Homo sapiens: one gene and its partners. The protein of the gene in region 7 purifies or fractionates together with the protein of the main gene of each other region. This does not show direct contact. Each region holds a gene or a part of one and is shown on either strand. Other genes may lie near its edges. The genes, in order: MANBA, CD109, SUSD1, POGLUT1, SCARB2, NPC1 and PTPRK.

What was found.
Region 1: the proteins of PTPRK (region 7) and MANBA purify together in Homo sapiens (affinity purification with mass spectrometry; 3 studies listed by BioGRID and IntAct, with this or other methods). This does not show direct contact.
Region 2: the proteins of PTPRK (region 7) and CD109 purify together in Homo sapiens (affinity purification with mass spectrometry; 3 studies listed by BioGRID and IntAct, with this or other methods). This does not show direct contact.
Region 3: the proteins of PTPRK (region 7) and SUSD1 purify together in Homo sapiens (affinity purification with mass spectrometry; 3 studies listed by BioGRID and IntAct, with this or other methods). This does not show direct contact.
Region 4: the proteins of PTPRK (region 7) and POGLUT1 purify together in Homo sapiens (affinity purification with mass spectrometry; 3 studies listed by BioGRID and IntAct, with this or other methods). This does not show direct contact.
Region 5: the proteins of PTPRK (region 7) and SCARB2 purify together in Homo sapiens (affinity purification with mass spectrometry; 3 studies listed by BioGRID and IntAct, with this or other methods). This does not show direct contact.
Region 6: the proteins of PTPRK (region 7) and NPC1 purify together in Homo sapiens (affinity purification with mass spectrometry; 3 studies listed by BioGRID and IntAct, with this or other methods). This does not show direct contact.

The regions. Positions count from the first base shown.
Region 1 is NC_000004.12:102,758,169-102,762,452, forward strand, and holds the start of MANBA (beta-mannosidase precursor), read right to left. Parts: upstream 2,801-4,284; 5' UTR 2,727-2,800; coding exon 2,550-2,726; intron 2,285-2,549; exon of another isoform or gene 2,156-2,284; intron 1-2,155.
Region 2 is NC_000006.12:73,804,203-73,807,702, forward strand, and holds part of CD109 (CD109 antigen isoform 1 preproprotein), read left to right. Parts: intron 1-2,641; coding exon 2,642-2,870; intron 2,871-3,500. UniProt on the Homo sapiens protein: Modulates negatively TGFB1 signaling in keratinocytes.
Region 3 is NC_000009.12:112,140,798-112,144,297, reverse strand, and holds part of SUSD1 (sushi domain-containing protein 1 isoform 2 precursor), read left to right. Parts: intron 1-674; coding exon 675-827; intron 828-1,798; coding exon 1,799-1,978; intron 1,979-3,500.
Region 4 is NC_000003.12:119,482,463-119,485,962, reverse strand, and holds part of POGLUT1 (protein O-glucosyltransferase 1 precursor), read right to left. Parts: intron 636-3,500; coding exon 576-635; intron 1-575. UniProt on the Homo sapiens protein: Dual specificity glycosyltransferase that catalyzes the transfer of glucose and xylose from UDP-glucose and UDP-xylose, respectively, to a serine residue found in the consensus sequence of C-X-S-X-P-C.
Region 5 is NC_000004.12:76,179,325-76,182,824, forward strand, and holds part of SCARB2 (lysosome membrane protein 2), read right to left. Parts: intron 1,778-3,500; coding exon 1,630-1,777; intron 382-1,629; coding exon 193-381; intron 1-192.
Region 6 is NC_000018.10:23,534,507-23,538,006, forward strand, and holds part of NPC1 (NPC intracellular cholesterol transporter 1 precursor), read right to left. Parts: intron 2,371-3,500; coding exon 2,167-2,370; intron 1,195-2,166; coding exon 963-1,194; intron 54-962; coding exon 1-53. UniProt on the Homo sapiens protein: Intracellular cholesterol transporter which acts in concert with NPC2 and plays an important role in the egress of cholesterol from the endosomal/lysosomal compartment.
Region 7 is NC_000006.12:127,971,600-127,975,099, forward strand, and holds part of PTPRK (receptor-type tyrosine-protein phosphatase kappa isoform b precursor), read right to left. Parts: intron 2,229-3,500; coding exon 2,065-2,228; intron 1,559-2,064; coding exon 1,423-1,558; intron 1-1,422. UniProt on the Homo sapiens protein: Regulation of processes involving cell contact and adhesion such as growth control, tumor invasion, and metastasis. Negative regulator of EGFR signaling pathway. Forms complexes with beta-catenin and gamma-catenin/plakoglobin.

The DNA of each region.
Region 1 (4,284 bases), on a different chromosome or scaffold from region 7:
AGTGTGCCACCTGCCTTACATTATTTATTAATTTGGTATATATGTCTATCTCCTCCATTAGAATGTCCATTAGGGAAAGGACTTTGTTTTCTTTACCACTCGATTTCAAGTACTTAGAATAGTGCCTGCCACATTAGAGGTACAAAATAAATATGAGATAATTAACTAGGTGAATAGATAAATAAATGAATGATATCACCAAGATATGTTTCAAGTTCTTACACAAACACAATATTTGGCCCAGTGTCTACTATAAACGGTAGAATATTTCCTCAAGTCAACACCAAAAAGGGATGTTATAATAAAGCAGGTCGGACAACAGTCTCACATTACTGAATAACGATACTGATCTGATGTTGATGATTGCTTCTTTACTTTTTTTCTTTTTTTTTTTTTTTTGAGAGAGGGTGTCACTCTGTTGCCCAGGTTGGAGTACAGATCACGGCTCACTGCAGCCTCAACCTCCTGGGCTCAAACGATCCTCCCACCTCAGCCTCCCTCGTAGCTAGGACCACAGGTGTACGCCACCACGCCCAGTTAATTTTTTAATTTTTTGTAGAGACAGGGTCTCGCCAGTTGCCCAGACTGGTCTAAACTCCACCTACCTCTGCCTCCCAAGTGCTGGGATTATAGGCATGAGCCACTGTGCCCAGCCTGATGATTATTTTCAACAGGCCTTGTGTTTCCTAAGCCCCAAAAGCCTTCCCATTTCTCATTCCACTGCCATTTGAGACCCATGGCCACCTGATTGAAACCTCAAGGTTTTGCTAAGAATTTATGAAGAGAGTTAAGAAATCTCTTCAAATTGTTCCTATGAGGAAGTTATTTCATACTATGAGCAAATTCATTTTCATTAAGTATCTGTTGTAACCAAACGTTGTTTCTTAGCTTCTTAGCTCTGTAATATGGCACAATAATCTGACTTACTGAAGCCACTCATTATTTCCCATTGGCTTAATTCTTTCTTTCTTTTTTTTTTTTTTTAGAGATAGAATCTCTCTATGTTGGCCATGCTGGTCTTGAACTCTTGGCCTCAAGAAATTTTCCCACCTCGGCCTCATAGACTCTTTCTATGTTGGCCATGCTGGTCTTGAACTCCTGGACTCAAGGGATCCTCCTACCTTGGCCTCCCAAAGCTCTCACGTACCAGCACCCATTGGCTTAATTATTTCAGTAAAATCAGGCAAGGAGGAACCCTACAAAATAAACACAGGCATTCTCAAAGCAGATATAAGTGAAAACTCAGAGTATACTGTGGTCAGCTGTGTTCTCTATCACAAGTAGTTTGTCAACTTAAAATAAAGTACTAAAGTTTGGGAATGATCTACTCTAAAAATACATCGGACAATGGTCAATGTCATTTACAACATTCACCTCCTTTCTGATACACATCTCAGGAAAAAAAAAAAAAAAACTACTAAGTACCAGGTCAGAAATTTGGCACAACCCTAGATGACCACCTTGTCATGCAAATAAACTTAGAATGGTGCTCCTGAAAGTCAGCCACAGTGCTTCAAAAACACATGATTTTTTAAAACACCAAACTAAGCATACCACATAGTATAGAGACCAGGCTATGGAGTTGAGACCACCTGGGTTAGAATTCCATTTCTTTCCATTTAGTTGCTGTCACCTTCCTAATTTCTCTGTGTTCCATAATTCCATATTATCCATAAAATTCAGATATGAACACTTACTATACAGAGTTGTTATGAGGATTGGACAATGTATGCATCCCACAAGTAGATCAATTACAAGTACATTTTGCCCCAAGTAAAGACAACACGTGGGAACGCTGTGCAAGAGGGAACAGCAAAAGCAGTTGGAGGATGGAAGTCAGTTTGCAAACCTATGCGCACAGGCAGCCAAACACGAAAACGTTCCCCACAAGTAGTCTGTAAATTGGAGACTCCATTGGGATACACACACACACACACACACACGCCCTGAGAGGAAATAGCACCTTTCTTCATCACCAAGTTAGCCTTAAAAATTATTTACCCGTTGTTAGCCACACTAGCACTGACAAACCCAACTTTACTCTTGTAGGTCATTCTCCACAACGTCTGTGCTGCGTCAATCCCAAATCTGACTCCCTGACGCTTAACAGCGAAAATAAAAAACCGAGACATTACTCAATAGAGTTAACCCTTACTTAACAAAACGCTGTTGTCCCCTGTGGCGTGCAGACAGTAGAGACAGTAATTCCCGACCTTATGCTTGTCAGTGACGGCATGCCCTTTGTATACACGCTTCAGTAGAGAACGACTGCAGTAAGTAAACTGCTAGTAGCAACACTGTTCCCCTATCTAAACTTCCCCTTTCCAGAGTTACTGATGTCCCAACATGGGTCGGTCGCTCAGTCTCCGTCAAGCCCGTACCCCATAGCTTGGGCATTTCCCCCCGCAGATCACAAGATGCAAAGGGGAAGTTACTACCAAACCGACGAGAATGGCCCAGAGCTGGGGGCTGCCAGGCGGTTCCTGGGCCCCTCTCAGCACCAGAAGAAGGCGGGCGCAGGCTCGCCGCGGGTCGGCCGCACGCCATACCTGGATCAGGCCCTGCTGGAACAAGGCGCTGTGCACGCAGCCAGGGACCGCCCCGGGCAGCTCCAGCGAGCCGTTCCCATTGCAGATGCTCCAGTTGCCACGCAAGCTGTAACTGAGCTCCGCGGCGGTGGTGCCTGCACCGCACAGCGCGAGCAGCAGGAGCAGGTGGAGGCGCATCTTGAGATCCCGCGCCACCGAGATGTGGAGAGATCGAAAGGCAGCGCTGCAAGGGACCGGCGGTGAAGCCACTCACCCCCTCGGAAGTAGCCGAGGCTTTAGGTCCCCGCCCCGGCCCCGCCCCTAGGTCAGCTGAGCGCTCTCCGGGCGCAGCCGCGGGCGGGAGGGGAACGAGGAGGCTGCGCCTGCACCCGCTGAAAGCCGGGCGTCGCGGGTGCGGGAGCTGCAGCCCCCGAGAATAGCTACAGGCTGGGGGGCATTGCGGTCTGAGCCTTCCCTCGGCGCTTCTTCCCGCCGCCTCAGTACATACAACTGGAGGCAAGAATCTTGCACGGTAATTGGGACAGAAAGATCCCTGGGCGCGCAGTGGCACAAAGCCTCGGGAGATCAGAGACCGACTGTACGTGGAGACCATAGCTGGAGAGTCCCCTCACTCCTTCAGAGAACCCAAACTGGGAGACAACCCACCACTTCCCTTCCGCCAAATTTACACAGACCCTCGTCTACCTGGTAGCGTAACACTCACCCCGCTGCAGCTCAACTCGCGGGTCTCAGAGCCTACCCCGCCCTTCAAAGAGTAAACAAGTACTAGCAGTATCTCCATCAGAAGGTTGTTCTGAGGGCTAACCAAGAAAATGCGACTATAGCATGCAGCATGGAGCCTGGCCCAGAGAAGGCATTCACGTTAGCTATTGTTACTAGCGGCCTGCGTCCTTATGTTTCATAAAGCCCCACGGAGGTTTCTGAGGTTCTGGAACCTGCACTAGGCGCGCAGCTGAGTTTAAAATCCTCTGCACTCACTAGCTGTGGGACCTGGGCAAGCCGCAAAATCTCCATCTCCGTTTCTTGAAGTTTTCAAGGTGTTATAAGTATAAAATGAGTAAACATATGTGATCGTCCCTAACAATGCCAGAGTACCCAAGAAATACCACTGACTTATTTCGGGTCTTGTAGTCAAATGGTCTACCTGAGTCCCATTTTTGCAATAGGATGTAACAGTAATCCTAGAAGTTAAGACGGAATTTTACATTGCATAAAATAGACTGCCTTTCTCCTGTGTTGACGCTATCTGCCGTATATTTATGCTTCGGAAGAAGTCCTTGAAAAGAAATTTTCTCTCATCAAATCTGAGCTTTGTTTCGCCTTACAATGGCCTTGGAATTGCCTGATTCTGCAGACACCGGGCAATATCTTACTTTGCAAAGTCAGCATTATTTACAAGCCCTGAATATCTTGGCTTAAAGGACAGTATGGATTATCCAACCCAAGCCGCTGGCTTTACAGATGAGGGAACTGAGTTCAAAGAGATCGGGGCCAGGCGCGGTGGCTCACGTCTGTAATCCCAGCACTTCTGGGAGGCCGAGGCGGGTGGATCACTTGAGGTCAGGAGTTCGAGGCCAGCCTGGCCAACATGGTGAAACCCTGTCTCTATTAAAAATACAAAAATTAGCTGGGCGCGTGGTGGCACGTGCCTGTAGTCGCAGGTGCTCGGGAAACTGAGGCAGGAGAACCGCTTGAACCCAGGAAGCAGAGGTTGCAGTAAGCCGAGATGGCACTA
Region 2 (3,500 bases), about 54 Mb from region 7:
TTGAATATCAGTAATGTTTACCACATGAAACTTTATATAACATGAAACAGATCTGCTTCAAATTTTCTCTTGGCCTTGGCCTGACTCAGGATATAGAACCATAAATAGAAAGCTTTCAGTGTTGTATTGCTTGATGTTCTTTTTACCTCAGTATAGTGTTTTGTAGCAGGGACTGGCAAACTTTTCTGTAAAGGGTCAGATTGTAAGTATTTCAGGCATTTTGGGCCACGTAGAGTCTCCGTTGCATGCTCTTCCCTCTTCCTCCCTCTCCTCCCTCTTTCTTTCCTGTCTTTGTCTTTTTCTTTTCCTTCTTTTAAAACCCGCTCTTAGGTGGTGGTGTTGGCAGGTGGGGGCTGGGTTGGTGCACACATAAACAGGCCCTGGGCTGTATTTGGCTTGAGGGCCAGATTTGGGCCAGGCAGATTTGGCCCACAGGCTGCAGTTGGCTAACTCCCATTCTATAGGAGAGAAAAATATCATTTTCCCCACCTGAAGTACTACAGTTTGCTTGTGAACTATGTATGCATTCTTCACCCACAGCTTTGGGGCTGACTGAAGCGTGTTGGAGCTCTTCTTTGGTAAATATCTAGAACAGTCCAAAGATGAATAACCTTGGACAATTTATTTAACTCTCTTGGACTGTCAGATTCTCAGTCTACAAAATAATGGAGCTGGATTCAACAGACACATTAAAAAATGCTCATCATCACTGGCCATCAGAGAAATGTAAATCAAAACCACAATGAGATACCATCTCACACCAGTTAGAATGGCGATCATTATAAAGGCAGGAAACAACAGGTGCTGGAGAAGTTGTGGAGAGATAGGAATACTTTTACACTGTTGGTGGGACCATAAACTAGTTCAACCATTGTGGAAGACAGTGTGGTGATTCCTCAAGGATCTAGAACTAGAAATACCATTTGACCCAGCTGTGGGGAAAAGAAAGAGAGATCAGATTGTTACCGTGTCTGTGTAGAAAGAAGTAGACATAGGAGACTCCATTTTGTTCTGTACTAAGAAAAATTCTTCTGCCTTGAGATGCTGTTAATCTGTAACCTTACCCCCAACCCTGAGCTCTCTGAAACATGTGCTGTGTCAACTCAGGGTTAAAGAATTAAGTGCTGTGCTTTAGATATGCATACACATAAACATCTCAATGCCTTAAAGAGCAGTATTGCTGCCCGCATGTCCCACCTCCAGCCCTAAGGCAGGTTTCCCCTATCTCAGTAGATGGAACATACAATCGGATTTTATACCGAGACATTCCATTGCCCAGGGACGGGCAGGAGACAGATGCCTTCCTCTTATCTCAACTGCAAAGAGGTGTTCCTTCTGCTTATACTAATCCTCCTCAGCACAGACCCTTTACGGGTGTTGGGCTGGGGGACGGTCAGGTCTTTCCCTTCCCACGAGGCCACATTTCAGACTATCACATGGGGAGAAACCTTGGACAATACCTGGCTTTCCTAGGCAGAGGTCCCTGCAGCCTTCCGCAGTGTTTGTGTCCCTGGGTACTTGAGATTAGGGAGTGGTGATGACTCTTAACGAGCATGCTGCCTTCAAGCATCTGTTTAACAAGGCACATCTTACACAGCCCTTAATCCATTTAACCCTGAGTTGACACAGCACATGTTTCAGAGGGCACGGGGTTGGGGGTAAGGTTACAGATTAACAGCATCTCAAGGCAGAAGAATTTTTCTTAGTACAGAACAAAATGGAGTCTCCTATGTCTACTTCTTTCTACACAGACACAGCAACAATCTGATCTCTCTTTCTTTTCCCCACACCCAGCCATCCCATTACTGGGTATATACCCAAAGGATTATAAATCATGCTGCTATAAAGACACATGCACACGTATGTTTATTGCGGCACTATTCACAATAGCAAAGACTTGGAACCAGCCCAAATGTCCATCAATGATAGACTGGATTAAGAAAATGTGGCACATATACACCATGGAATACTATGCAGCCATAAAAAAGGATGAGTTCATGTCCTTTGTAGGGACATGGATGAAGCTGGAAACCATCATTCTCAGCAAACTATCGCAAGGACAAAAAACCAAACACCACATGTTCTCACTCATAGGTGGAAATTGAACAATGAGAACACTTGGACACAGGAAGGGGAACATTACACACCGGGACCTGTTGTGGGGTGGGGGGATGGGGGAGGGATAGCATTAGGAGACATACCTAATGTAAATGACGCGTTAATGGGTGCAGCACACCAACATGGCACATGTACACATATGTAACAAACCTGCACGTTGTGCACATGTACCCTAGAACTTAAAGTATAATAAATAAAAATAAAATAAAATAAAATTAAATTAAAAAATGGAGCTGGATTAGATCATTTCTAAATTCCTTTTCAAATCTGAGATTTTTGAGTCAACATGGAATTTCTTGGCCAAGCCCAAGTGGAAACCAGTTCTGCCTGCTAGAGAGAGTTGCTTACCTTGTCCCTTTGCTCTTTCTTTTTTGATTTTTTTCTTTCCTTGTTCCATCTTCAGTGATTCCCCCTTTGATGAATCTTCTGATGGGGGAAAAAGTGTTGTTGTTTTGCTTGCTCGGTGTTATTTGGTGGACCTTATAAAGTGTATTTTATGTAATTTTTTTCTCTTTTCATAAAGGTTGTCAGCTTTTGTTTTAAGATGTTTCCTTGAAGCCGATCCTTACATAGATATTGATCAGAATGTGTTACACAGAACATACACTTGGCTTAAAGGACATCAGAAATCCAACGGTGAATTTTGGGATCCAGGAAGAGTGATTCATAGTGAGCTTCAAGGTGGCAATAAAAGTCCAGTAACACTTACAGCCTATATTGTAACTTCTCTCCTGGGATATAGAAAGTATCAGGTATTTCGTATTTAATTTAATAAATGATAGATGGGAAATTCAAGGAAGGTAGGTCTTAATGGGTCAAATATGTGTGTGGAAACTTAACAAGTTGCAGCTTTACAACACATGTGAAATCTGAATTTGAGTACTCTTTTGCTTTGCATTTGTGGCCATGTTCCAAAATCTGAGAATAAAACATTAACCCACTCTTTCAGAATAACTAAGAGAATTCTAAAAATGCTTTTTAATGTATGTATTGTACTTGCTATTGGTAAGATAAGTCAATACATGTTTTATCATTGAAAAAGTTAATTTCTGAGGGGAAAGAAAATTATTTAAAATTTGACAATGTGTTCTAGCAAGTTTAGATTGCAAAGGATTTTTTACTTATAAAACATCATGGAACAGTTACAATATCTGTTAATTTAGTGCTGAGAACACCCATACCCTGAAAAGTGTGTTGAATGGGCATGGATGCCTGGATGAGAATGAGTATGCGTGGAAAGGTATGCTGACGAGCTTAAGTTTGCTCCAGAGCTGTCCTGGTGATTGATGCCTTTACTGCTTACTGCCTGCTGCATTTTATGAGATCACCAAAGTCATTCTCTTTATTAGGACCCCCACTATTTTCCTATTCTACTAGTAGGC
Region 3 (3,500 bases), on a different chromosome or scaffold from region 7:
TGGATATATTTATAGTGATTGGATTTTTTAGTGATTGGATTTTCTTTTTTTTTTTCTTTGAGACGGGGTCTTGCTCTGTCACCCAGGCTGAGTGCAGTGGCGTGATCTCGGCTCACTGCAAGCTCCGCCTCCTAGGTTCAAGTGATTCTCCTGCCTCAGCCTCCTGAATAGCTGGGACTACAGGCATGTACCACCATGGCTGGCTAATTTTTGTATTTTTACTAGAGATGAGGTTTCACTATGTTGGCCAGGCTGGTCTCGAACTCCTGACCTCAAGTGATCCACATGCTTCGGCTTCCCAAAGTGCTGGGATTACAGGTGTGAGCCACCATGCCCGGTCAGGATATTTTTTAGTGATTGGATATATTTATGTTTTTGGTTCATTTTGTTGGGTGTCAGGGAGCCGGTGATGGTTATCAGCTTTTGTAAAATCCCAGAACACACTGACAAACATTTATTGAGCACTTGCTATGTTTTCAGTGCCTATGATATGAACGATATATGAGAAGAACCCATAAGGCATAAAATAAAATGTATGATACAATTGCAAACAAATGCATCTTTTTACAAGAGTAGCTTGAAAATGTGAAAAAATGGCTGTCACAATATCCTCTCCTTTTTTTTTTCTTTTTTCTGTTTTTATCTCCTTTTCTCTATTTGGATTGGGTCCCAAGACATAGATGAGTGTGAAGTTTCTGGCCTGTGCAGGCATGGAGGGCGATGCGTGAACACTCATGGGAGCTTTGAATGCTACTGTATGGATGGATACTTGCCAAGGAATGGACCTGAACCTTTCCACCCGACCACCGATGCCACATCATGCACAGGTGGGTTTCTGCCAAAAATTGCGGCATCTCAACGTGAAATTCTGTTGATGGTGACTTTCTTCTGCTCCAAGCCTGTGTTGGGGAGGCAGGTGGAGGTGATCTGATCCTTTGCACATTTTGTACAACCTATGACATAAAGCAAATAACAACAATCAAGTTACAGGGGGCCATGTTAAAAAAGCTAAAATTAGGCCAGGAGCAGTAGCTCTGTAATCTCAGCACTTTGGGAGGCCGAGGCTGGTGGATCACTTGAGGTCAGGAGTTCGAGACCAGCCTGGCCAACACGGTGAAACCCTATCTCTACTAAAAATAAAAAAAAATAGCCAGGTGTGGTGGTGGGCACCTGTAATCCCAGCTACTCAGGAGGCTGAGGCATGAGAATTTCTTGAACCCAGGAGACAGAGGTTGCAATGAGCCGAGATCATGCCATTGCACTCCAGCCTGGACAACAGAGTGAGATCTCTGTCTTAAAAAAAAAAAAAAAAAAAAAAAAAAAAAAAAAAAAAAAAGCTAAAATTCATAAACTTAAAGGATTTTTATTAGCAGTTAATAGATATTCCGATATTAACTACTATGTTAGATAGTAAATGCCAATGATTTGGTAAGGTCCCTGCATCTCAAAAGTGACCCTGAAAATAATCAAGGTACATATATCTTAAGGTATTTTGCAATTCAGATTTTTTATTTCACTGGACAAGGCTTCTCTTTAGTTAGTGTAAATTAGTGAGGGTTGATTGCTAAGTTATTTCAGCTTTGTGCATGTATAGATGCTTTACCTATGGAAGGCCAAAAGATTGAATAAAGACAATTGTTGGAAATGTTCCCAGAAGTCATGTGGGAATGAACCAGTGTACTTAAAATATGGCTCGGGGGTGTGTGTGTGTGAGGAATAGGGTAGAGGTGGAGAGAGATTGTGAATTTTGAAGATTTACATTCACGAGGTAATGAATTTGACATTAATTTATTTTCAGAAATAGACTGTGGTACCCCTCCTGAGGTTCCAGATGGCTATATCATAGGAAATTATACGTCTAGTCTGGGCAGCCAGGTTCGTTATGCTTGCAGAGAAGGATTCTTCAGTGTTCCAGAAGATACAGTTTCAAGCTGCACAGGCCTGGGCACATGGGAGTCCCCAAAATTACATTGCCAAGGTGAGTTTTCAAAAAATACAGGTTCCCAATTCATACCACCTTGAAACTGTTTTCATATTTTTCTCTAAATTTCAGTTTCAGGGAATAAATGAGTTAAGTAAACCTTTAAAATTCCTATTTGTTTCTCATAGATTTTCAGGTGATTTTCTTGATTTTTCAGGAATAGTATCATATCATCTGCAAATCATAATTCCATTCATAAATTTTTCTTTCTTTATAATAGTTATGTTTTTCTCTTGATTGATCACTTTGTATTTTTAGAACAAAGACTTAAATGGTAGTGTTGCCTTTGAATATTATTTTTTTATTCCTGACTATTAGGGAAATGGTTTGGGTGTTTCTTCATTCCTGATGTTAGTTTTTTGATGTTAGGTGTATATATATATATATATTCCCAGAAGTCATGTGGGAATGAACATATATATATACATATATATACACACACATATATGTATATATATACATATATATATAAAAACGTCATGTGGGAATAACATATATTATATATAATATACAATATATACAATATATGTAATATATTACATGTAATGTATTATATATTATATATTACATGTAATATATATTATATATAATACATTACATGTAATATATTATATATTTTTTATATATATATATAGTTTTTGAGACAGAATCTCGCTTTGTCACCCAGTCTGCAGTGTAGTGGCACAACCTTGGCTCACTGCAACCTCTGCCTCCTGGGTTCAAGCGATTCTCATGACTCATCCACTCGAGTAGCTGGGATTACAGGCACCCACCACTACACCCGGCTAATTTTTGTGTTTTTAGTAAAGATGGGGTTTCACCGTGTTGGCCAGGCTAGTCTTGAACTCCTGACCTTAAGTTATCTGCCCGTGTTGGCCTCCCACAGTGCTGGGATTACAGGTGTGAGCCACTGCGCCTGGCTGATATTTGGCATATCTAATCATGTCTACTCATATGGCACTGTGTGCCAAGTATTATTTTAAGCACTTTATATATGATGATGGACCACATTGTAGTGGTCCCATAAGATCATAATGAGACTGAAAAATTCCTATTGCCTAGTGACATCGTAGCCATCATAATGTTGTAGTGCATCACACTCACGTGTTTGTGGCATTGCTGGTGTAAACAAACTTACTGCTCTGCCAGCAAGTACATTACTGTATGTATATTACTGTATGTACATTACTATACATAAAAGTGTACAGTAATGTCCTAGGCCTTCACATTCACTCACTATTCACTCACTGACTCACCCAGACCAACTTCCAGTCCTGCAAGCTCCATTCATGGTAAGTGCCCTATTACAGGTGTATCATTTTTTTATCTTTTATTCTGTATTTTTACTGTATCATTTCTATATTTAGATATATAAGTACTTCTTATTGTGTTATAGTTGCCTACAGTAATCAGTATAGTAACATGCTGTGTGAATTTGTAGCCTAGGAGCAATAGGTATACCATACAGCCTAAGTGAGTAGCAGGCTCTACTATCTAGGTTTGTGTAAGTACACTCTGT
Region 4 (3,500 bases), on a different chromosome or scaffold from region 7:
ATCATATATTGACATGCTAGGAACTGTTCTTGGCCTTGGGACTATGGAGCTGAACAACACAGGGTCCTCCTACTACCTTTGCCATTTTTCTCTTCTCTTTCCTCCCTGCTCCCTTCTTCATTTTCAGCAGTCTCAGTCTGTGCTCTTAACCACTATTTGGCAGCCACAGGGTGTGATAAAAAAGGCAGTCAAGAGATATGGTGATGAGTCCTGCTCTGCATTAACCAGCAGAGTACCGTGGCATGATCATAAGCTACTCCTAGGGACTGTAAGAAGACACCCATCTGTTGTGTTTGGCATCACATAATCAATGACCGACACATTTGTGACACTATGTAAAATATCTGTTAAATGACTGAAATGGATGAACTTTACTTCTTTGAATATCAACTCAATCAATGGCGATTTCGGCAAATAATGTGAATTATTCTCGAATCTAAAATTGTGATTCCACATTTCTTTCTTTGTTATCTTAGCTTTCCCTTTGAACTACAGAGCTTGTCATACCCTCAAAGTTACTTACATTTTACATTACTTGGAAGAATATCTTTGTAAAATGTCAGAAAATAACTCACCTTGATCCTCGGAAATATGCTGTAGAGTTTTTCTTTTTCCATGGCCACTGTGCTGCTGACCTAAGAATATAGAATTTAATTAGTTTCAATATATCTTTTTCAACTATATAAGAATGTGCTTTAACCATTTCTGAAGATTAGTTCAGAGCTTCATATTTCTTTTTTTTTTTTGAGACGGAGTCTCGCACTGTCGTCCAGGCTGGAGTGCAGTGGCGCGATCTTGGCTGACTGCAAGCTCCCCTTCCTGGGTTCATGCCATTCTCCTGCCTCAGCCTCCTGAGTAGCTGGGACCACAGGCGCCCGCCACCACGCCCGGCTAATTTTGTGTATTTTTTAGTAGAGACAGGGTTTCACCGTGTTAGCCAGGATGGTCTCTATCTCCTGACTTCGTGATCCGCCTGCCTCGGCCTCCCAAAGTGCTGGGATTACAGGCGTGAGCCACTGTGCCTGGCCAGAGCTTCATATTTCTAAGTAAGTCTAATCAAAGTCACTCAAAAGAAAAAGCCCTAAAGGACACTTTGTTTCCTTTTGCTACCATTTCATTGCTCTGGAGGTGCTACCCAGTTGTATCTACAAATCTACTCCCCATTAACAAGTTAACAACATTGAAAGAAAAGCCCCCAAACCCTGAAGGTCATGATTAGGTCTGTTTATAATTTGGCAAATGTGGATTTCCTCTGTACTTTAAGTAGGGTGCTACTGATGAAATTAATTATGTGTACAGAACTGCAAAAAAATAAAAAAGCATCAGAAATGGAATGAAAGGGAAATCACTCTCTGATTTTATGTTTTCCATAGGTGGGAAGTGTCATCAGATTTAGTTTGATATTTGAAAAGCACCTTTGTATTCTTAAAGCCAGACTAAGTGCTCTATAAAGATGAAGTCCTTGAAAGTCAGATCTCAGTACACATTACCATGACCAGCCTTCCTTACTGAAACTGCTAGCTCACAGATGCATCATTCTTAACTTGCTTCGTAGGAACCCTCCCTGCACAGAAGTCTGCACAGCATCTTCTCTGAAAAAGGAAGGGAAGGCTGAACTGAAGTTAATGAGGGATTGATGGGCTGGATTACAGTAACGGAGAAACTTAGGATATAAACTTTCTAGGCACAGGTCCTTTTCAGATACATATAATGTCATGCTGCTCATTTTCACTCAGCTGAGAACGCTGCTCAGTATTTTCCAGGCCCTCAGACCTCCACCCTCAGCCAACGTGGCTCATCCTCTGGCCTTTTCTGGATGGATCACCTTTACCTGATTCTCCAGTCTAAGGCCAGAACTATCTTGTTTTCCCCATACTTCTTCCTGCCCAAGCAGAGACACTATAGCACTGGATTTTTGTTGTTTTGTTTTTAGTGGAAAATGTTTCATGCTCCTCATGCAAAGTTCTCATGAAAAAGCATAAAGATAAAAGTAAGAAGTCGTCTGGAATCTCCCTGTCCAGAGGTAACAATGTAACATTTTAGCCGAGAATTTCCTTGCAATCATTTATTCATATTAGTAGCTTTCAACTGGGGGTAATTTTGCCCGTCCCTCCCACCCAGGGGACATTTGGCCATGTCTGTAGACATTTTTGATTGTTACTACTAGGGGACTGCTACTGGCATTTAGTGGGTAAAGATCAGAAATGCTGCTGAACAATCCTACAGTGGTTAGGACAGCTCCCAGGACAAAGAATTATCCAGCCCCAAATGTCAGCAACACTAGTACTGAGAAACTTTGCTCTATGTAACAGAGGTCACACCATACATACTGTTAGGTAACAATCTTAATAGGAAATATAAATAATAATAACAGCCAACATCTATATAGCACTTCACTATGTTACAGACATTGTTTTAAGTGCTTTGTAAATAAAAAATCATTCTCACAATCTTAAGAGGTAGGTTTTATCACCCCTATTTTACAAATGAGGTCCTTTAGAGGTTAAGCAACTTGCACAGAGTCATGCAGCTAATAAGAGCCAGGATTTGAACCCAGAGTTTTTAAAACCTACACTGCCTTTCCATTCATGCACGATATTCCATTTTATAATCTCTGGCAAAGACTCACTGCAAAAATTCCATTTTATAGTCATGTTATGATTCACTTCATCCTTTATTGATGGACTTTTAGGTAGTTTCCAACTTTCTGCTCTAAGAAACAACATGGTAGTAAACATCCTTGTACACAAATCTTTGCACATTCATCTGATTAATTCCTTAGGATACATTCTAGACATGAAACAGCTAGGTCAAAGGATACACAGTATACATTTCCAATTTTGATACATATTGTCAAACTATCTAACAAAACATGTATCAATTTATACTCAAAGTTACTTCTCTTTATTTCCTTGGCTCCTGGGGAAGCTGTGTTTCATATACACAAACCCAAACTGTGTATCACTGTTCTCTCTCTTTCATTCTCCTAACCTACCCATCCTCCCTCAAAAGACCTAGGTTAGGACTTGTTTCTCCAGGCAAGTGCTAACGGTGGCCACCACAGCCTGGTGCTACCCCAGCCCTCTTTTTTAAACCCTCTCTGACAGTAACAAATGAAATCTTCGATCTGTAAAGAACAATGAATTCTTCTACAGAGTGAAATATAAATCAGTGGGCACAAACTCCCAAAATATCAGAAAAATAGAATGAACAGTGGCAGGCAGACATCAGTGCAGATGGATAAACAAGCAGATTATTAAATTTTCAAGGTAACAAATGAACATCATTAGAGATTCTAAACAGAGGGTTCTAAAAAACAAAATTGTATTTCTATAACCATGAATAAATTCAATTGAATAAAATGGGAAGGTATCAAAAGAAAAAAGTATTCATATAAGATTAGACTTTAAAACATTCTATCTGCCTAAAAATTGCTTACTAGTTTACCTGGGGGAAAATGGTATTAATAACTACACGGTGGAGTAACTGGATAACACCTT
Region 5 (3,500 bases), on a different chromosome or scaffold from region 7:
ATTACAGGCATTAGCCACCGCACCCGGCCTCAAGTTTTTTTTCTTTCCAAAAAACACTCCATTTTTCACACACTCTATAAGATAACTTAACTCTAGGCAATTTCTAGAAGAAACTCAAAGTTAATCTGGCTTGGGGTGCCCCAACCCACTGTCAGCTAAAAAAAGAGGTTCTGAAAAGAAAAATCTACTTACCTCATAGAATAGGCCAAAATAGGGAGAGATATCGGGCCTGAAAACATGGATAAGGGACAAGATTTCATCTTTGTAGCCCCAGAGCAATTCGTCAACTGTGTGAGTCACAAAGAGCTTCTGCTGATAGGCTTTCAACATGGCCTCGATGATCTCCCTGAGGAAGTGCACCTGGGACCACTCTATGACAGTCTGCGGAGCAGAGGTATATTAAGACAGCAGCATCCCCTCCAAAGCACCTCCATCCACTCTCTCCTACTACCCCATAGCAAAGGGGGTTGGAAATATAAATGTAAAGGTTGAGATTAAATAGCTGAAAAATCAGGCAGTGAGCTCCTTTCTGGCTGCATATGGAAGACAAAGCCTCTTCTCTGTCCTTTCCCAGTACTGCATTTTGTAAGTGTAATATTTACAAAGAGACCATTTGCAGGCTCTGAGTTATCCAGACACCACAAAAGGGGAAAAGCTCTTGTAAACATGTGGGCATCTTTGGCCACAAGGTGGCGCTACCTTCCGCCTAAGCAGGGCCAGAGGCTCATTATAAACCCGACCTACACCCCTGGGACTAGGTGGCAGGGACCTCATACTGTCTAGGTCCTGGGTCCATCATCAGTGTCCAGCTGCATATGGAGCGGTCACCTAGGGGTTAGGGTGGGAGAGTCGGCAGGGGTTGGTGTAGGTGAATTAGAATGTTTACTGGGCCAGCCCAGGAACAGTGGTTCACGCCTGGAGTCCCTGGCCGACACAGGAGGATCCCTGGAGCCCAGGAGGTAGAAGCTTCAGTGAGCTGTGATGGAGCCACTGACTGCACTCCAGCCTGGGCGACAGAGCAAGACCCTGTCTCAAAAAAAATTAATAATAAATAAATTAATTTAATTTAAAAAAAAAGAAAGTCTCATGGGTCTCAGTATAGAATAGATGTAGAATAGGTGTCGTTATTAGGTAGAATTACCATTATAAACAGAGCCCACTGAAATCACAGTAGGCTGCCAGTCTATTGATTTCTGGTGTCAATTTATGAATTTTGAGAGTATAAAATCCAACATAAAAATCTGAAGTAAGAAATGGTATACAAATTTCATTGCTAGAATTTCTGAATGAAAACAAGGGGCAAATAAACATTTTTAAAATTATTAGCTACCAAAAAATCCTAGGGGCATATTTATTTGCACAATTGCTAATCCTGAACACCCAGGAAGAAATTATGAAAACAAATCCTAAAATCTGAATTTTGTCATCATTTGAAAAGACCTTATTTGATACATCTTAGAAAAAAGTCCAAGATGTACTTTAAAGAAAAGAAAAGAAGTATTTTTCTTTTTATATATGTATATTTCAACATAACTTAATGGCTCCTAAATGTAAAATCATAAAGAGCATTAACTTAGCTTTTTCCTTTCTTCCAAAATCCAACTTAATGGTATTAAAATGCCTACTTACCAATACAGGAATATTTAATGTTCTAATTAAGTCAATTTTAGGGTCTCCAACAGATTGGTCTCGTTCAAAAACATAGGCCTTGTTGCTAACAGCAGATATTGTTGTTCCATTATCTCCAAATTGAATATTTGCTTTGTTTCTGAGTTCCCTAAAAGAAAGAAAAGGGTTTTATTTGAAAATAGACACCACTTTAATAAGCAAGACTTTTCCTTTCTTTCAGCATCCAAGTTATATTTTCAATATAACATTCCCAATATAACATTATATAGAGACTGCAGCTACTAAGCCTTAAAAAGCTGGAGATCGAAGCTATAATGTGGGAAGGAAACGAGGCCTAGGATAGAGTCTTCTCAAAAACTTTGTTTTCCTTCTTTTCTTCCCTGATTAGGGAGGTGCAATAGTTGAGGGTCACCTTGACCGGGAATCAAAGCCGATGAACTCTCTCCTGGGTTATGGTTTGGTCCTGAAGTATTTTCAAAATTTTCAGTTTGGTTCACAGATTTAGTTTGAATTTCAATTTGTTTACCAATGTCTTCTTGTTTCTACATTGAATTAAATTGAAATTTTATTTTAAAAAATAATGCCCAAGGCTTAGTAAATTACAGGAGTTCACTCCTGTTTCTTTTTTTGAGATAGGGTCTCGCTCTGTTGCCCAGGCTGGAGTGCAGTGGCATGACTACAGCTCACTGCAGCCTCAGCCTCCTGGGCTCAAACAATCCTCCCACCTCAGCCTCCCAAGTAGCTAGAAGTACAGAAGCATGCCACCACACCCAGCTAATTGTTTTATTTTTTTGTAGAGATGAGGTCTTACTATGCTACCCAGGCTGGTCTTGAACTCCTGGACTCAAGTGATCCTCCTGCCTCGACCTTCCAAAATGCTGGCATTACAGGCATGAGCTACCACACCCGGTCTCTGTTTCTGATATACAGCACAGTTTGGTTCAAGTTAGAGCCCCCAAATGAAGCATTAGAAAGTTCTTAGAAAGCGCCTGGTGCCAGGGCTGGGCCTAGAGTCAGTGTGAGTGATGTAAGAGGTGCCTAAACAAGTAGTAATCAAGATAAATAGTTTAATGCACTATTTATTAAAACCAAAATTTATGCCAAAAATTTATGATGAACAAAATTTTAAATAAAAACAGAATCTGATCTTTTGTTCATCAAATGCCTCACACTAGCCCTAGCCCTAGCCCTGCCTGGTACATAGTAGGTGTTCAATAAATTCCAGTGACTTTTGTTTCTTTCCCTTTGCTTATCTTTCCTTCTTCCTAAACCAGCTAGGGTTATTATGTCTGACATGGTAGCCACTAGTCACATGTGACTACTGAGTACTTAAACTGTGGCTAACTGGAATTGAGATTTGCTGTAAGTGTAAAATATATACAGAATTTCAAAAACAGTGCCAACCTTTTTTTATATTGATTATATATTGAAATGATGCTATTTCAGTTATAATGGGTAAAATTAAAATATATTATCAAAATTAATTTTACCTGCTTCCTTCTACTTTTTAAAAAATGTGGCTACTAGAAAATCTTAAAATCTTAAATTACACATGTGGTTCATGTAATATTTCTATTGAACAGAGCTAATTTAAGAGCACAGGTTAGGAAGGCATTGGCCAGCTGGGCTACCCACACCTCCTCTGAGGCCTTTCCCAACCATAGCAGCACAGGGATTTTTCTCACCCACCTGTGGATGTCCGTACATGTCTTTAGCATTCAATTAGAAACTTCTGAGTGACATCATTTAGATTGTGAAATTATCATGTAGCCTCAGGTAGACTGCAAGCAAGCTGAAGGCTGAAACTGGTACGTAAAAATGCGCCTCGGTGATGATGGAGTTATGTCCCAGTAAACCCATCATAAGTTGAA
Region 6 (3,500 bases), on a different chromosome or scaffold from region 7:
ACCGTGAACGCTCTGGTTATGTGGCTGCAGAACTCCACGGAGATGCCACAGCTCTGAAATAAAGCACTTCCTTTAGGATGGCTCTCTTCCTGTTGAAGACCCTAGGCAGCCACCCCGTTCTGAGGATGGGTGCTAATTACCCAGGGCACCCTGGGTGCTAGAGGAGGCCAAGCATCCCATTGGACTTACAAGGCCTCCATCACACCAATCTTACTGTACCAGGAACTTTTTGGGGCCCTCTCTACACACAGCCAAAAGCCTGGTTTTCTGTGGCACGTTTGTGTTGACCAGGAGAAATTGCTGGAACCCGTTAAGGTCACCCCACCCGCACCGAGCTGGCGCATTGTCACAACTTCTTTTCTTGGACCTCAGTGCTCCCCTATCTGAAGCAGGGCTCATATCTGAGAGTACGGATACACTGTTCTATTTTCCATGAATACCTTCTCAAGTGCTCTCATCTTTAATGATTAAAAGTACCTGATAACCACATAGGAGGCAAAAGGCACTGGTCGGAGAGCTCCTGGGGCGGGGTGCAATTTTCTAAGTAAAAAGTGAACATCCTGCTGTCATCAGGCTACAGGCTTGTGCAATCTCTAAAGAATAACAAATTACAGGCAGACTAGCCCAGAACTAGGCCAGGAAATCACATTTCCATGGTCAGAGGCACCATCAGGTATACTAGTATAGCCGCAAGGAATGGGACAAGAGAAAAAATTGAACAGAAATTGCCTGTAATGTGCCTATGCTCCCAGATGTCCAACTCAATGCTCGCTCCCTCTATGCCCTGTCCCACCACCATCCAGCACTCCTCCAGCACTCATCCTGCCTCTCCATGTGTGCCAAGAGCAAGCGCCAGACTTGGTATCTTACTCCATCTTTAGGGTTTACATGGAATCTAAGACAGCCAATTCCCCCAAGTGAAACAGGAGCTAGGGACAAACTGAGACTGTATGAGGACTCACCATCACCAGGTTGACCAAGGATACAGCGTTCAGACTGATGCCCCAGAGCCACATAACTCCAAACATGTTGACCAAGACCATGGCGATGGTGGCACACATGATGACTGCAGACCAGAGCTCACAGCCCAGGAGGACCATGGTCACCAGAAATATCGCGCCCAGGGACACACCGAGGTTGAAGATAGTGTCGTCAATGATGGTCAGGTACTGTTCGTAGAAGACATAAAACACACTGGAGGGGAGAGGGGAGGCCTCATTAAAGCTCGCTCTCACTCCCGAACACTGCGTGTTCATCCTGTCACCACTGCCAAGTGGTCAGACTCCTTTGGGAAACATCCCTTGCAGAAAACCTTGCTGGCTGTCTACAAGACTCACCGAAAGCAACTCACTTGACCTCTCATGGCCACTGACCACCCAGAGAAGGGCCCAGCAGTGATGCAAAATGTATATTTTTGATAAAGTTTCTGTTTATAAGCCCAATCTATGCTATTTTATAGACATTTACAGAGAGCATTCCACAGCATTCTGAAAAAACACAAAAAAACAAAGAATCCTGATCTATCCTGAGACACTACCTCAGGCTCAGCGGGGTCCGTGCAAGGCCTGAGGAAAACATGCTTTCATTTATTTTCTGCCAGAGCTAACCGGCTCTTAACTTCTTCCAAACAAATCCAGGCCTTCCTGCTTTAAGCGAGATCATGGGGAGGCAGGAAAAATAAATCACTTGTTTCTCCTACCTTTCTACAGTTTCTAAATTCAGTAGTTCATACATAATACTTTTCTTCCTGGGAAAAAAAACCCCTAACAATATAAAAAGTCTACATACAGGCAGCATCCCAAATAACCAGCAGTTAGGGATTCTGGTTCATTGTTGGCCAAGAATGTGGGCCGGGCCCTGCTCTGAGCCGCCTGCTCTCCAAGCGCCCCCTGCCTTAAGCCATTTTCCAGTGTGTGTCTCTTGCAGCTGTGCAGTGGCGCAGAGATCAAGTTTTGCGTCTCTAGCCCTCAGGCCTTCACAGAGACTTTAGATTCTGAACTCCTTTGCCCAGCACCCATTTCCTTTGATATACTGCCCTGTGCTCAGAATGGAGCAGGGGCCAGAACCCAACCTGAAAATCAGCATCTTGCCAAGGGAACCCTCCCCACTCCCACCCAGTGTAGGCCCTTTGCTGGGTAAACCCCATTGAAAAAGGGCAGGCTTTACCTGTAAGGAAATACTCGGTAGGCACTGCCGTTAATGCCCATGGTTTCGGTGACATTACTGGCTATAAGTCGGGCTTTCTTCAGAGCGTCAATAAAGTCAGCAGAGGTCTGCAGCACGGTGTGGTAGGTCATGAAGTACGTGGCTCCGACCCTGGTGCCATGGCCAAGGAGGATGTTAACTGCAGAACTATAGGCAGCATGTCCCCTGAGGAAAGAATCCTGGGTGTCAAGAGAGTCCAGGTCTTGCAAAATATCAGCAGAATCTGAGCACTTGAGGCTAAGCAAAATCACCTGACCCTGGACTCAGAGGTCAGACCCAGCTGTACATTTCAGGGATGAAGAAGGCCCCCAGATAAGGGAACACCAAAGGTTTAGCTTGTTCTCTCCCAGACTGGCTTCTTTTTTTTTTTATTTTGAGACAGAGTCTTGCTCTGTAGCCCAGGCTGGAGTGCAGTGGCGTGATCTCGGCTCACTGCAACCTCCACCTCCCGGGTTCAAGCAATTCTCCCTGCCTCAGCCTCCCGAATAGCTGGGATTACAGGCACCTGCCACCACGCTCAACTAACTTTTGTATTTTTTTAGTAGAGACAGGGTTTTGCCATGTTGGCCTGGCTAGTCTTGAACTCCTGAGGTGATCTCAGGTGATCCGCCCACCTCGGCCTCCAAAAGTACTGGGATTACAGGTGTGAGCCACTTCGCCTGGCCAGATGGGCTTTTCTCGATTGCTCTGGGTTCTTTGGTACATAGCTGCTGTTTCTCCACCTGGTTTCATGTATAATCAAAGGTACAGGGTTTACTCAGTCCTGTTGTGTAATAGGAAGCAGGAAAGGGCAAGGGCCCTGGGAACAACCTCAGCCCTGCCACTTACTGGTCATGTAACCCCGAGCAAAATGACCACCTCTGAGCCCCAGTCTCCTCTTCTGTAAATGGGTATACCACCACCTACTCATAGGCTGCGTGATGAGAAATGGAATAATGTCAGGGAGTGCCTGGCATGACGCTGGCACCCTGGAGGCTCCCCAGGAACGGTGGCTACTGCCTTCAGAAAAACTGAATCTACTTCAACTTATTTTACGTAGGCCAAAGCATCCAGTCAGTGAGTAAATCAAGCTGCAAGATTCATTTCTACTTAACTTTTAGGAGGAGTCATCCCATGATACCTCGAATAGGTCTCAAAGCACATGCATGATATAAATGATTCACTGATATGACTCTGGTCAGATGTATGTTCTTATGAAAAACCTAAGTTCAGGGTTTACCTAACATACATGGGGATACTCATCTTCCACCTCCCAAAGCTTCCAAATCAAGGCCAGAGACTTCCGGTCATCATCA
Region 7 (3,500 bases):
ATCATCAACACTGATTAAACACAAATCAGAGGGTGGGGTGTTCAGGATTCACGGGACATGAATGTAAAGGAAAATAGTAACTTTTTGGAAGGTCCCAGAATGGCACAGTTTAACCATAGATTTTTTTTTTAATTAAAAAAGGTGGGAAATCAGTTAAATTTGAAGGTAAAAGTTGAATTCTGAAGTCAGAAATGATCCCACTGATGATTTTAAGACTTGACCTGAAAAATGGAGGCAGAGTTTACATCAAGAAATCTTCAAATCGCAAAGTTTAGAGACATAACCACTATTCATTTAGTTGCTAAGACGATCTGAGAGTTCTCCCTCAAAAATCCCTCCGATTCATCCCCCCTTTCTCATCTCCATAGCCAGCACCCCAATCAAAACCAATGTAATCTTGTGTAGACAGCTGCAACAACCCAGGGAAATGAGGTGGTGTAGGGAGTTTGAGGACACCTGTAGAAAGGGTGGAAGTCTGGTACCGCTTGTAAAAGTGAAACAGTACAAACCTAAGTCTTCAGATTTTGTCTCAGGAAGCAACGCAACTCTTGTGCGAGCAATCCATGAGCAGGAAGTGGTGAAATACTTTAAAGGTTTATTGAATTGCTCATTCTAGTTATCTGATCATCTTGATAAATGTAGGGCAAGCAACAATGATGCCTTGGTTTTTCTGGTTTACTTTTCTGTGAGCATACACTACACAGCTGCTCCCAACCTGATCCCACCATGCACATACATATGTGTAACCCACAGATATCTCTCGTTAGAAGTAAAATGTGTTAGATAAGTGTAACTTTCTTTCTTACTCTGCATACAGCTTCACCTAGATGAACTGTCACACACACACATACCTATCAGCTCTTATTTTGTAAGCTATGTTCTGACTTTACGAGCCTTGACAAGCTCAAGTAGCATGATATGAACTGCCCTCTACAGTTGGTAAAAGCTGAAAACTTAACCATGATAGTTTAACCATTTACAATTTGATCAGAAAATGAATGAATAATTATAGATAATGACAAAACTAAATTTCATTGCCTTTTAAAAATACTGGGTGTCTAAGGTACTGATGAAACCTATATCCCTTAGACATACAGCCTTGATATAGGATTTATTCTTCTTATAGGACCATTTACCAAAGTTTACTGCAGCAAATATTTTTTGGCTATAACAGAAAAAAAATCCTACAAATTTCCCAAATTAAATGAAAATAGTTTCATGATTAGCAGTTTATGCAATACGTGATTAAGTGTCTGTGGGTAGAGGGGGATGCTCAGCAATGTATTAATTAGGCAGGAAAGTCCCCACAACGTCTCATTTTCACATCTGATTCCCTATGTGTGTATGAAGTCAAATCAATAAGTAGGTATATGACTAACTAATCTCTAAGATGCCTTCCAAATCTAAGATTCTGTGACTCACCGGGGCTTCCACCATGTTTGGCTTGCTGTTCCTCAGTGTCTTTACTGCATGGAAAACATCGACAACATTTTGCCGTTTCACCATTTCAACAACGATGCCTATAGCACAGAACATGCCACTTCGCCCGCCACCATTTCTGAAAGCAAAGAAAGCAAAGGCATTTTAGATAGCAGCACCAAGTGACCACAGGTCACACCATCATATATGTTTGGGAAAATAAGACATTGTAGTTTTAATTGTTTTCCATTTGTGTCTTAATTTTGCTTTATATGTGTACAAGGCAGAGAGGAGAAAACTTGAGGATGAAATTAGATCAGTAGCTTATACTCAGGAAAATGCTATAGGCATAGATTGCTGCAATCTAGACTTTGAGATTCTGATATATTTGTAAACTGTGTAAATCAGAAGTTGTTACGAGTAGTGTTCCAAAGAGTTTAAATAATATAGCTATATAATAATCAATATTTAGAAAATATACAAAATAAACTTAGTAGTTAATTATAGACTCATGAGACAGGAAGACTGTTTAAAAATAACATCTATGGGAGGTCCATAAGATGCAAGCCAGATAGTCTTTAACATTGAAAATGAGAAAATAAGCACCAAGGCCCCATGAATGACAGGCTGAGCTGCCCTACTCACAGGCAGTGGATAATCGTCCGGCCTTCCCCTTCCTCGCATTCCTCCTGCCACTTTTCCACCTGAAGTATCAGTTTCAAGAATGACCTTTTGGATCCAGGCACTTCTCGATGAGAAGCCCATCCTAGGTACTGAAACTGTTGCACCATCAGATAACCTTCCTGTGGCTGTAGAGGGAAGTGTTTTTATGTAAATACGCTGGGACTACAATTTTTACTAAAAAGTAAAAGGTGCATATAATTTACAATACAAATGGCATCTACACTGGATTGAGTCTAGCTGATATAAATCCTCAATATGTACATGCTAGTAAAAAAACATTCTAAGTGACAACAGCAGGAAACATGGCAATCATCCTTTATACCTGTTTCTCCCTCGCACTATGTATCCAGTAATTCATTACTACGATTACATTTCCTAAATAACTTTCAGATTCATTGCCTTCTCTTTATCACCACTGACATCAATACACTACTAGTCACAGGTTCTGATAATTACCTCCTAGCTGATCTCCCTGAATAAACTTTGATCTCCTTCCAGTCCATTCTTACTATAGGCATCATGATTATTTTGAACTGCAGATACAATCTTGTCATTTCCTGCTTTAATGATTTTCAAATGATCTTAGCATAAAATCCAAATTGTTGTCATGGCTTAAAAAAACTTATGTGATCTGGCTCCACCCCCTTCTTCAACCTTCTCTTTGTCTTCTTTTAATCCATATATCAAGTCTCTTCTTGCCTTGGGGACTTTGCATATACTGTATGTACCCTTTGCCTTGAATACTTCTTCCTTGCTTGGTCTTCTCAATCCCAAATAGAATGACCAACTTGTCCCAGGTTGGCCTGGGACTTCTCTGGTCTTAGCACTGAAGGCTGTGTGTCTTGGGAAAGCTCCTGCCCTGGGCAAACCAGGATGGTGGGTTACATCAACCCCCAACTAATTTCTATTGATTCATTAAATTTTGGCTTAAATACTACTATCGCAAAGAGGTCATCTCTGATCACACAGTTATGTCAGATCACCCAGTTAAACACTCTATATTCTTTACTCTTTCACTGTAAAATGCATCACTTTTATACAAAAAGGATTATACAATTTTCATGTAATGCTTTTCTTCCTGAAAAAAATAAAGATTCCTTAAGTACACGGAAATCTTTTTTTCCTACACTCTGTATCAGTAGAACTTTGCATAATACTTCCCCAAAAGTAGTAGTGTTGAAAGAATGAATCAAAACCTTAAACCTTGAAATAAAAATATCAGGAAGAATATGTAATATATGAGTAAATCATATCAGATTGGCAAGAGCCCATGCATCTTTTGGTAGATTACAAGCCCTACTTAGTACTCTACAAACTTGTTGGTACATGTTAAATGTTTGATGCAGTTAAATATATTAAATATATTAAATGATGAGAGTGAGAACAGAAAAAAAATC